Linked DNA regions of Homo sapiens. The protein of the gene in region 2 interacts with the protein of the main gene of each other region in a pairwise test. Each region holds a gene or a part of one and is shown on either strand. Other genes may lie near its edges.

Region 1 (5,099 bases), on a different chromosome or scaffold from region 2:
CTCAAAAGAGTCAGAAACCTAAATGTAATAGCTAAAACTATAAATGTTTCAAAATAAAACATGGGAGAAAAATCTATGATATCTTGGGACAGGCAAAGAATTTAGACATGGCATCAAAAGCATGATTTATTAAAGATATAAATAGGACTTTATCGCAATTCAAAACCTTTGGGCACTTAGAAAGACACCATTAAGAAATGAAAAGAGTCAGGTGTCAGGTGGGTGTTTTGTTAAAATAATAAGAAAATGAAAAGAGAAGTGATAGACTTGGAAAAAAATTTGTAAATCACATACCTGGTGTAAGATTTGTATTTAGAACATGCAAAGAATTCTATAACTCAATAAGAAGACAATCTAATTTTAAAATGGGCAAAACATCTCAATATTTTACCAATGAAAGCACATGAAGAGCGGATAAGTGCATGCAGAGATACTCAACATCATTAGTCATTAGAGAAATGTAAATGACACTGCAAGATACTACTAAATACCCATTGGAATGTCTATAATAATTTAAAAACACAGATGATAACAAATATTGACAAGGATGTGGAGAAATGAGAATGTTTATACGTTGCTGGTGGGATGTAAAATGGCACATCTACTTCTCCACTTTGAGAACATTTGGCAGTATCTTTTTTAAAAAGCTAAAGATAGATTTTTCTATACAACCTAGCAATTTCACTTTATTATCTACCCAAGAGAAATGAAAATATATGTTCACACACAGACTTCTTCACAAAGGCTCATAGCAGAATTTCTTTATAATAGCCAAGGAGTAGAAACAACTCAAAATGTCCATCAATTGGTGAATGATAAACAAAATTTGGTATCATATAATATTATTCAACAATAAAAAGGTGAACTACTGATACAGGCTACATTATGGATGAACCTCAATTACATTACACTAAGTGAAAGAAGCCAGATGCAAAACGCTACATATTGGGTGATTCTATTTATATGAAATGTCCAAAAAATGCGCAGTTATAGAGACCAAGAGCAAATTAATGGTTGCCTGGGGCTGGAGATGGGAGTAAAGACTGACTACAAATGAAGATAATTGGTATTTTTGGCATGATGCAAATACTCTATAACTTGATTTTGGTGATGGATATACAACTCCATAAAAGTCACTAAATTGTGTACTTCAGATGGTACCTTTTATTATGCAAATTAGATTTCAATAAAACTGTTACAAATTGTGCCTGCGGACTCCACTAGTGTTGGTGTGTATACCCAAGGCTCCTGGGAAGCAGCTTTTTTTTCTAACCTTTCGTACAGCAGTAAGCAAGAGAATTCCCTATAGATTCAGAGGGCTCACTAGGGCTAATTTAAATCTGGTAATTTATGGGCCTGATGGGGCAACCTAGGTCTTGGATGTTAGTCAAGTATTTTGAAAGAATGCCAGCAGTAGGCCGGGCGTGGTGGCTCACGCCTGTGATCCCAGCACTTTGGGAGGCCGAGGTGGGCGGATTACCTGAGGTCGGGAGTTCGAGACCAGCCTGACCAACACGGAGAAACACCGTCTCTACTAAAAATACAAAATTAGCCGGGTGCGGTGGCACATGCCTGTAATCCCAGCTACTAGGGAGGCTGAGGCAGGAGAATCGCTTGAACCTGGGAGGTGGAGGTTGCGGTGAGCTGAGATTGTGCCATTGCACTCCAGCCTGGGCAACAAGAGTGAAACTCCATCTCAAATAAAAAAAAAAAAGTTCCAGCAGTGCCAAGGCAGTTGAATCACATGGTTTGTCATCCCATTTTTCTCACCTAGACTTTCAGTCTTGGTGTGCTGGCCCTGATGGTCTGTGTGGCAAAGCCAGTTTCAAAGGCTTACAGTGCTGCCTGAAGACAGTATCTGGTCCTCAAGATGCATGGAGGCCATCTCTACTGCAGATTTCCTTGGGGTCCAGGCCTCCCATTATGTTGGCCATTCCAGCCCCACAGCAGAGGTTCCTCTGGAGATGGACATCTAGATTGGCCAGTTCTTCTCATTCTTCAAACATTCTGAAGTTCTTTTCCTCCTGAAAATCTTCCCTCTGATTATTTTTTTCTTTAACCTTTACTCCATCTGGAAATAAAATGCCCCTAAGTGTGATATGAGGTATCAGAAGAACATGGCTTTGGAGACAACAATACGGTTTAAATTCCAACTCACCTCACTAGCCATGTGACTTTTGGGCAAGTTTCTTAGCTCCTCTGAGCCTTGTATTTAGAAATCTGTAGAATGGAGAGAATCATACCCATCACAAAGGGTTATTGTGAAGATGAAACAAGATCATGTATGGAAAGACTTGAGCACAATTGACCGACATGTAGTTGGTATTCCCTAACTGTTAGAACCAGAGAGTAGAGTGGGTCAGATCGTGGGCTCTGGGTCTGAATTTGCATTTGTGCTTTTCCACTTCTAGCCAAGTGAGCTGGGACAAATTCCCTCATTTTCTGTATATCTGTTTCTGCATCTATAAAACTGGCATTAATAGTACCCACCTTATTAGGACAGTCTGAAGATTAAGTGAGTTAATATATACAGCACTTAGAATACTGCCTGTTATGTAATAAGTTTTATATAAGTGGCAGCCACTGTTCTCTCACCACCCAATACAATGCCCTATTCCCTTGGAGCAGCATATTTGATTTATGTGGATTACATGTGAGGATTACAGGGACACAGTGGGCTGTCACTCCACAGACGACCAGGTAGGCCTGGTTCATCTGGCTGGTGGCCCACCAGTGGTGGGTTGTGAATTTTCTATCTCACTACATCACATGCATCTTCTCACTCCTTCCATGCTGATTCAGAGAAAGTACCTTCTCCACAGAAGAAAGGAAGTGTTGTCAGAGTAAGCTAGTGGTTGAACTTTTCTGCAGGAATGGATTCCCTGGATCCTCTCACGACCATGGACCCTCTAAGATCCCTGCATGCAGTATTGTGGGGTGTGATGAGAGCTCCTGTAGATTTGTCTCTTCTGCCTGCAAGTACCATAAAGTTGACACATCAGGTGTTTGAATGAAGTGGTAGCAGGGATGTGCTCTGTTCTTTCTTTGTCTCAAAGAACACTTCATCGGAGACTGCCTTAAGACCTTGGGGCTCTGTAGAATATATGCAAGTTGGTTGACTTGATTTATTATTAATTACCTCTTCTGCTTTAATTTCAGCTGATTATTTGCCTTGGAACCAACCAAGGCGAGAGCCACTTCGTCTGGAACACAAATACCAGCCGGCATCAGTCAGGTTTGATAACAGAACCACACACCAGGACGATTACCCCATAAAAGGCCTTGTGAAGACCATAAGCTGTAAACCTCTGGCCATGCCAAAGCTCTGTAACATCCCCTTGGAGGATGTGACTAACTACAAGATGAGCTATGTGGCCCACCCCGTGGAGAAGCGCTTTGTGCATGAAGCAGAGAAGTTCAGGCCCTGTGAAATCCCCTTTGAAAGCCTTACCACTCAAAAACAATCCTACCGGGGCCTGATGGGGGAGCCTGCCAAGAGCTTGAAACCTCTAGCCAGGCCTCCTGGGCTAGACATGCCTTTCTGTAACACCACTGAGTTTCGAGATAAGTACCAAGCTTGGCCAATGCCCCGGATGTTCTCCAAAGCTCCCATCACCTACGTCCCTCCCGAAGACAGGATGGATCTTCTGACAACAGTGCAGGCCCATTACACATGCCCTAAGGGTGCCCCAGCTCAGTCCTGCCGACCTGCACTTCAGATTAAGAAGTGCGGTCGCTTTGAAGGCTCTTCCACCACCAAGGATGACTACAAGCAGTGGTCCAGCATGCGCACAGAGCCAGTCAAGCCCGTTCCCCAGCTGGACTTGCCCACCGAGCCCCTGGACTGCCTGACCACCACTCGGGCCCACTATGTGCCCCACCTGCCTATCAATACCAAAAGCTGTAAGCCTCATTGGTCTGGCCCTCGAGGAAATGTCCCTGTGGAAAGCCAGACCACCTACACCATCAGCTTTACTCCCAAGGAAATGGGCAGGTGCCTAGCTTCATATCCTGAGCCTCCTGGCTACACCTTTGAGGAAGTGGATGCTTTGGGTCACAGGATATACAAACCAGTTTCCCAGGCAGGCTCTCAGCAGAGCAGCCATCTTTCTGTAGATGATTCAGAAAACCCCAACCAGAGGGAGTTGGAAGTGTTAGCCTGATTTTGAAAAATAGTAATTTAGAAATTACACAGTACTTTTAAAAGCAGACAACTGAGAATTATTTGTTGGACAAAAAAGAATTCCCTAAAATGACAAAAAACAAAAAACAAAAAACCTTCACCACTTCCAGAGCACTTGAATAAAATGAGAATCACTTGACTCAGGGAAAATGACATTTAATCACCGGCTAATTAACTCCCCTTACCTTCTCCTTTACTGCATCCCCACCCCGTTTCAGGTCCTTTACTTTGTGCTTATGGAATCAAAGTTGGTCTGTGAGGGTTTCTCTGATCCAGATGTATTTTATTAATTTAATCATTGTATGAACTGACATAATGATTAACCCTTGCCAAGTATGAAGCGCCAAAGAATAAATTTTATTTTGGGGGGAATGAATCTGTAGGCTGGCTATGCAGAGAGTAGTCCGTATTGCTTGGGACCTTTGGGAGATTTTATACTAGCACCCCCATTGTGTATCAGTATTGGTGGAGGTGCCTTGGGCCTGGTCTGGAGTCTTGTTTTGGGTTCTCTCTGTGCAGGGCTGCTTCACAAAGCATCCTTCTACCTCTTCACTGCATGACATACCAGCAAGAATAGTGCTGTTCGATGGGGTGTGGATCTCTTTAGTCACAGGTGATGGAGGGAAAGAAAGAGGGAGGCAGTGATGCATGAACCTACCAGACCTCTCCCCAACCCCAAGCTGGTACAGGCTATGATTCCAGGGAGAGGAGGGAGAAAAAGCACCCTTGGCAACCAGGCAGTCGACGCCTGGTCCTTGAGCTGTGAGCAAAAGCTGTGGGCTCTTCTAAATGCTCAGAGCCTGGAAGAAATTTCCCCAGGCTGGCCTGGTTTCTGGAGAGCCTGGATGTGCTTGTCCTAAAATGACAGCTGTGACCAGACCTGTGACAAAGTTTAACATAGTGGTGAGCCACATTC
Region 2 (7,347 bases):
GCTGGGATTACAGGCGTGAGCCACCGCGCCCGGCCTAGCAACGGTTTTAAACTTGGTGTGCTGGGGCTAAGGAAGGATCGCTCTAGAAACACATAAGCACATACAATATTTTGCTTACGATTTCAGGCAGCTGATCTCTCTCCACCCCACCCCCGCATCTCAAACCTAAATAGGCATCAGAAAAACCCCTGGATTGAGTGAAAAAACCCAAACTTTTCCCCTGGCAGTTAACACTCCAGGTCAAACTCTTCCCTCATACAAGCACATTCTTTTATTAAATAGATTCTCTACTATGTCACCCAGGCTGGAGTGCAGTGGCTATTTACAGGCGTGAGGCCACTACTGATCGGCACAGGAGTTTCGACCTGCTCCATTTCTGACCTGGGCCAGTTCACCACCCCTTAGACAGTCGAGTGGTCCCCAGCTCCCAGGGGGTCACCATACTGACACTGAACTTACTGCACACACTCAATCGACACAGCGCACTACAGCCCTGAACTCCCGGGCTCAAGCAACCCTCCAGCCTCAGCCTCTTGAGTAGCTGGGGGTACGGTGTGTGCCACTGTGCCTGGCAATACACACATAAACTCTCTCTCTGTTTCTTGTTCAAGAAACTGCCCCTTTGCAATGTTCTACTCTCTCAGCCTTTCAAGTTTTTGTTGTTGTTGTTGTTAGATGGAGTTTCGCTGTCTCCCAGGCTAGAGTGCAGTGGCACGATCTTGGCTCACTGCAACCTCCACCTCCCAGGTTCAAGCGATTCTCCTGCCTCAGCCTCCCGGGTAGCTGGGACTACAGGTGCCCACCACCATGCCTGGCTAATTTTTTTTGTATTTTTAGTAGAGATGGGGTTTCACCATGTTGGCCAGGCTGGTCTCGAACTCCTGACCTCAAGTGATCCGCCTGACTCAGCCTCCTAAAGTGCTGGGATTACAGGCACAAGCCACTGGGCCTGGCCTCCTTTCAAGCTGCTTTTTTTTTTTAGATGGAGTCTCATTCTGTCACCCAGGCTGGAGCGCAATGGTGTGGTCTCGGCTCAATGCAACCTCCAGCTCCCAGGTTCAAGCGATTCTTCTGCCTCAGCCTCTCCAGTAGCTGGGACTACAGGTGTGTGCCACCACACCTGACTAAGTTTTGTAATTTTAGTAGAGATAGGGTTTCACTATGTTAGCCAGGCTGTTCTCAGACTCCTAACCTCAAGTGATCTGCCCGCTTCAGCCTCCCAAAGTGCTGGGATTACAGGCGTCAGCCACTACGCCTGGCCTCCTTTCAAGCCTTTTCTTTTTCTTTCTTTCTTTTTTTTTTTTGAGATGGAGTCTTACTCTGTCACTCAGACTGCAGTGCAATGGCGTGGTCTTGGCTTACCGCAACCTCCACCTCCCGGGTTCAAGCGATTCTCCCGCCTCAGCCTCCCAAGTAGCTGGGACTACAGGCGCGGGCCACCACACCCGGCTAATTTTTGTATTTTTCGTAGAAACAGGGTTTCACTATGTTGGCCAGGCTGGTCTCAGACTCCTAACCTCAAGTGATCTGCCCGCCTTGGACTCCCAAAGTGCTGTGATTACAGTATGAGCCACTGCAACAGGCCTCCTTTCAAGCTGTTTAATCGAACACCAACTGTGTGTTATGTATTAAGGGACAATGACCTTGTACCTTAATACAAGACGAGCGTGTAGTCCCCTGAACTACACGCTCGCCGAAGCCAAACAGACCTTGTTTGGGTCATTGTACCTTAATACATAACACACAATTGGCGTTCGATCAAACAGCGGACAACCACCTCTCAATGTCCATCTACCTGGCAAACTCCTAGTTATTCATTTAAACAATCTAGAGACGGGGTTGGGTACTGAACGTGACAGATGTGATACCTGCCCTGAGCAGCCGCACCACCTGGTGACTATCCATTATTCAAAGGCCAGCTCTGCTTCCTAACTTTAAACTTCTTTAGAGCAGGACTGGAATCCTGTTGCCTAAATGAACGAACATTGATAAACACTTGCCAATAACTAAAACTCAGAGGGATAATTCTTTTTGATTTCTGCTGCAGGCATCTGAAATGCACAAAACCTTGCTGGACCCACAGGGAGACGGCAAAGGGGGCTGGACAGTGCCTGTCCCATGGACTCCCATCCGGCCTCTATCACTTCCTCCCTAGAAAACACTAAAACAATCACGCTACTCCTGCTAATCTCCGTCATCAGTCTGCAAAACAACAGCAAAATCCCTGATCCAGAGCCCAGGGGGGAGGATCGAAAACCTCGTTGTTCTCCATTACAGTGGCACCCAGCAGCCGCTCTGTGCAGGGCCGTGGGAACAGCGGAACAGGGATCGTGTGGACCGAGCTGCTCCACTTCAAAGAATAAACGACCCGAAAGAAAGAGGTTTGTGGCAGAGCCCGGACTGGAATCCGAGAAAGGAAGCGCTCGATGGGACGGCCTGAGTGCCGGAGGGGACTCACGCTGCTGCTGCTCCAGCGCCAGCTTGCACTTGTAGTAACTGTAGAATTCGCCTCCGAAAAGAAACGAGAATTTGGGGTTGTCCTTCTGCTTCTCCATAGTCATCTTCTCAAACTCGGGCCCATTGCGAGCCACGAACTGGGCGAGCTTGTCGATGACATTTCGAAGCTCCTGGTCTGGAGGACGGAGAAAAGGCCACGCGGGGCGTCAGCGAGGACCGCCCAAAGCCGGGGGACTCGGCGCCCCAGCCCCCGTCCGCCTTGCCGGGGACCCCAAGGGGGTGGGCCCCGAAGAGGCCGCCCTTGTACGGGTCCCGATAGGGGCCACACGCTCGCCGGGAATGCGGGGACCCACGGGAGAGGCCGCAGGCGAAGCCGCGAGGCCGAGCCCCGCCCCCTCCCAGACCCGGGGACTCCGGGAGGCGGGGCCGGCCAATAGGAGGTTCCGGGGAGAGAGAAACGGTCTCTCGGCCGGTTTGGGTCTCACCATCGGGGGGCAGCGGCATCTCCATGGCTCCGGCCGCGGGGAACGTCCTCCGGCGCCACACGATCGACCACCAGCGCCGTCTGCGGAAGCCGGCCGGAAGTGGCGCGAGGGAGCCGTTTACGGCGGGCTTCTAGGGCCGCTTCCGCCCGCCACTTACGGCCGTCGCTGGGAAACTCCGGAAGTGAGAGCGGGAGGCAGGCGGGAAGAAGCCGCGCGATGCCTGGCGCGCGGGAGGGGCTAGCGACGCGCACGCGCAGAAGTTTCCTGACACTTTCGCAGAGTGGGTCCCCGTCGCGCGGCGCCGCGGAAAGGCTGGAACGGCGCGGGTGGGTGTTAGTCGAGACCGGGGGGCGCGGGGCGTGCCCCTTGGTCGGCGTCGCAGCCCGATGGGCTGGCTGGTTGCTACCTCCGGGCGACCAGGGGCCTGGGGACTTCGTGCCTGGGCCAGGGTCTCTTTCCTTTCGCGGGCACAGTGAGGAGACTGCGAGGTGAGGTGCGTCCGGGTGGATCCCGGGCTGCGGCGACTGTCACATTCTCCCCGGCCAGACCGGAGGTGGAGCAGAACTGGGGGCGACGAGCTTGACTGGGATTGCAGCTGGACGTATTTAGGTTCAAAACATCCTCCTCCTGGCTTTCTTCCGCTCCACTCTTTGGTCAGGAAGACTGGGGCGGGGTACCCCCCAACCCATGCCCTCAAATTGCTGGCCTAGAGGGCACAGCGCCTTTCTAAAAGCTGCAGTTGGGTTGCCTCTAAAATAATGAAGCTAACCCTTGCTAATTGTGGGGAAAAGATAGCCAGAAGCAGCAAATTTCTGCTGTGGACGTCCGATATAAACTGATCCTCTTGAGATGGTTAATGCTTAGTTGGCTATACCTGCCCCCCGCCCCCGCCGCTTTTTTTTCCTTTATCCGTTTTTTTTTTTCTTTTTTCTTGAGACAAGGTCTTGCTCTGTGGCCCACGCTGGAGTGCAGTGTCATGATCATAGCTCACTAGCCCTGAACTCCTGTGCTCAAGTAATCCTCCCGCCTCGGCCTCCCAAAGTGCTAGGATTATAGGCATGAGCTACTTTACCCAGCCTGTTTTTTTCTGTGCAAATAAATGCACATGTATTTTAGATTAGTTTCATTTTTATTGTTAACAGCATTTTTCCACCAGATGCTTATGGATTGACAACTCTACATCAAGTGTTGCTGTAGGCTAGGAATCAACAAAACTTTTTGTATAAAAGGGACAGAAAGCAAATATTTTAGACTCTGCAGGTCAGGAGGCAAGATCAAGGATTTTTTTTTTTCTAAATGTCCTCTAGTTCATATTTTCTCATGAAGATCGAGGATCTTAATTGTTTGGTTTTTTTTTTTTTTTGAGACACAGTCTTGCTCTCTCTCGCCCAAGCTGGAGTGCAGTGGTGTGATCTCGGTTCACTGCAACCTCTGCCTCCCGTGCTCAAGCAATTCTCCTGCCTCAGCCTCCAGGGGAGCTGGGACTACAGGTGCGCACCACCACGCCCGGCTAATTTTTGCATTTTTAGTAGAGATGGGGTTTCACCAGGTTGGCCATGCTGGTCTTGAACTCCTGACCTCACATGATCTGCCTGCCTTGGCCTCCCAGACTGCTGGGATTACAGGTGTGAGCCACCCTACCCAGCCTTATTTAGGTATTTCTATAACCAGAAAGAAAAGTTCATAAAATTTTTGTTGGTGAAAATCAAAATATGATAACTGAGTAGTTTCTTAAATACAAGTTGCTACAGTTTGAATGTTTGTTCCTAATCCCCAGTGAAACAGTATTAAGAGGTGGAGCCTTTAAGAGGTGATTGGGTTATGAGGTCGTGCCATTCATGTGTTAATGGATAAATAGGTTATCATGGGAGTGGGACTGGTTTGGAGCTTGCAGTGAGCTGAGATTGCACCACTGCACTCCAGCCTGGGCGACAGAGTGAGACTCCATCTCAAAAAAAAAAAATAAATAAAATAAATAAAATAAAATAAAAAGAGGAAGAAAGGCCAGGCTCAGTGGCTCATGCCTGTAATTCCAGCACCTTGGGAGGCCAAGGCACGCAGATCACCTGAGGTCAGGAGTTCGAGACCAGCCTGGCCAACATGGAGAAATCCCATCTCTACTAAAAATACAAAAATTAGCCGGGCATGGTGGCGGATGCCTGTAATCCCATCTACTTGGGAGGCTGAGGCACGAGAATCACTTGGACCCAGAAGGCAAAGGTTGAGGTGGAGGTTACAGTGAGCCAAAGTCGTGCCACTGCACTCCAGCCTGGGCAACAGAGCAGGACTCCGTTTCAAAAAAAAAAGGAAGAGAGACCTGAGCTTGCACACAGCCTGCTAGCCATGTGATGCCCTGTGCTACCTCAAGACTCTGCAGAGTCCCCACCAGCAAGAAGGCCCTTGATTTTGGATATCTCAGCCTCCAGAACTGTAAGAAATAAATTTCTCTTCTTTAAAAATTGCCCAGTCTCAGGTGTTCTTTTATAGCGATGCAAAATGGACTAAGACCCAAGTCTATTCATAAGAGTGGAATTCTTTTGGGGGATAACATTTCACTTAATTGGGGCTCCCAGTTGTATTTCCTGTCGTCAATTGATGGTACATGTTCACCTTTGAAAAACCTTCCTGGCTCACAAAAACAGGCGGCCAGTTGGATGTGGTTTATAGATACGGTCATGCACAACTCAGATCTCAGCTCTGCTCTCAGGGGACTCAGTCTATGGCGGGGAAGAGTCCCAAAATCAGTAAACAAATATATCATCTCAAAGGTGTTATTAAGAAGAGGATGCTGAGACTATGATACAAGGGAGGGTGAGGCCCAGGCTGATAGGGTTGTCAGGAAAGGCTCTCGAGGTGAGGTCTGCACTATGATCTGAACAAGGGGCCAGCTCTAAACACCCTAAACAGGCAGAGAGAACAGTGTGGGATCATACTGTTTATTTAAAAAATATTTTTTATTTTTTATTTTTTTTGAGATGGAGTTTCACTCTTGTTGCCCAGGCTGGAGTGCAATGGCGTGATCGCGGCTCACCACAGCCTCCGCCTCCCGGGTTCAAGCAATTCTCCTGCTTCAGCCTCTCGAGTAGCTGGGATTACAGGCATGCGACACCACACCCGGCTAGTTTTTTATTTTTAGTAGAGATGGGGTTTCTGCCTGTTGGTCAGACTGGCCTCAAACTCCCAACCTCAGGTGATCCACCCGCCTCAGCTTCCCAAAGTGCTGGGATTACAGGCATGAGCCACCGTGCCTGGCCCTAAATTTTTTATATATTTTTTTGAGACGGAGTCCTGTCTGTTGCCCAGCCTAGAGTGCTGTGGTTCAATCTCGGCTCACTGCACCTTCCGCCTCCCACACTCAAGTGATTCTCCTGCCTCAGCCTCCTAAGTAGATGGGATTACAGGCGCCTGCCATCACACCCAGCTAATCTTTGTATTTTTAGTAAAAACGGGGTTTCACCATGTTGGCCAGGCTGGTCTTGAACTCCTGACCTCAACTGATTTGCCTGCCCTGGCTTCCTAAAGTGCAGGGATTACAGGCATGAGCCACCGTGCCCAGCCCATACTATTTGAAGAACAGTCAGTAATCCAGAGTGTGGGCACTTTTCATGCCAGGTAAAATCTACATGAAGAAGTTTTTTTTGTTTTTTTTGTTTTTTTTTTTTTTGAGACAGAGTCTTGCTCTGTCACCCAGGCTGGAGTGCAGTGGTGTGATCTCTGCTCACTGCAACTTCTGCCTCTGGGGTTCAAGCAATTCTGCCTCAGCCTCCCGAGTAGCTGGGACTACAGGTGCACACCACACCCAGCTAATTTTTTTTTTTTTCTGAGGAGTCTCACTCTGTTGCCCAGACCGGAGTCCAGTGGTGCAGTCTCTGCTCACTGCAAGCTCCACCTCCCGGGTTCACACCATTCTCCTGCCTCAGCCTCCCGAGTAGCTGGGACTACAGGCACCCGCCACCGCGCCCGGCTAATTTTTTGTATTTTTAGTAGAGACGGGGTTTCACCGTGTTAGCCAGGATGGTCTCAATCTCCTGACCTCGTGATCCGCCCACCTCGGCCTCCCAAAGTGCTGGGATTACAGGCGTGAGCCACTGCGCCCGGCCTACCCCCAGCTAATTTTTGTATTTTTAGTAGAGATGGTTTCACCATGTTGGCCAGGCTGGTCTAAAACTCCTGACCTCAGGTGATCCACCTGCCTCGGCCTCCCAAAGTGCTGGGATTACAGGTGTGAGCCACCGTGCCCGGCTACATCAAGGAGTTTTAACTTGGGATCTCCAATGGATAGATTTCAGAGAACCATGAACAAAATTGGTAGCAAAATAAATGCCTTTTTGAGGGTTGAAGATACACAGCGTTTACAGGATTCTTAATAGGCTCCTCAATCAGAACAGGTTAATGAATCTGTATT

What was found. Proteins that work in one complex are often made in the same cells at the same time.
Region 1: the proteins of CHERP (region 2) and SAXO1 interact in binary tests that used the Homo sapiens proteins (3 or more experiments, as listed by UniProt).

The regions. Positions count from the first base shown.
Region 1 is NC_000009.12:18,927,116-18,932,214, reverse strand, and holds the end of SAXO1 (stabilizer of axonemal microtubules 1), read left to right. Parts: intron 1-3,159; coding exon 3,160-4,163; 3' UTR 4,164-4,565; downstream 4,566-5,099. UniProt on the Homo sapiens protein: May play a role in the regulation of cilium length. Stabilizes microtubules at low temperature.
Region 2 is NC_000019.10:16,539,412-16,546,758, forward strand, and holds the start of CHERP (calcium homeostasis endoplasmic reticulum protein), read right to left. Parts: upstream 3,027-7,347; 5' UTR 2,968-3,026; coding exon 2,943-2,967; intron 2,633-2,942; coding exon 2,459-2,632; intron 1-2,458. UniProt on the Homo sapiens protein: Involved in calcium homeostasis, growth and proliferation.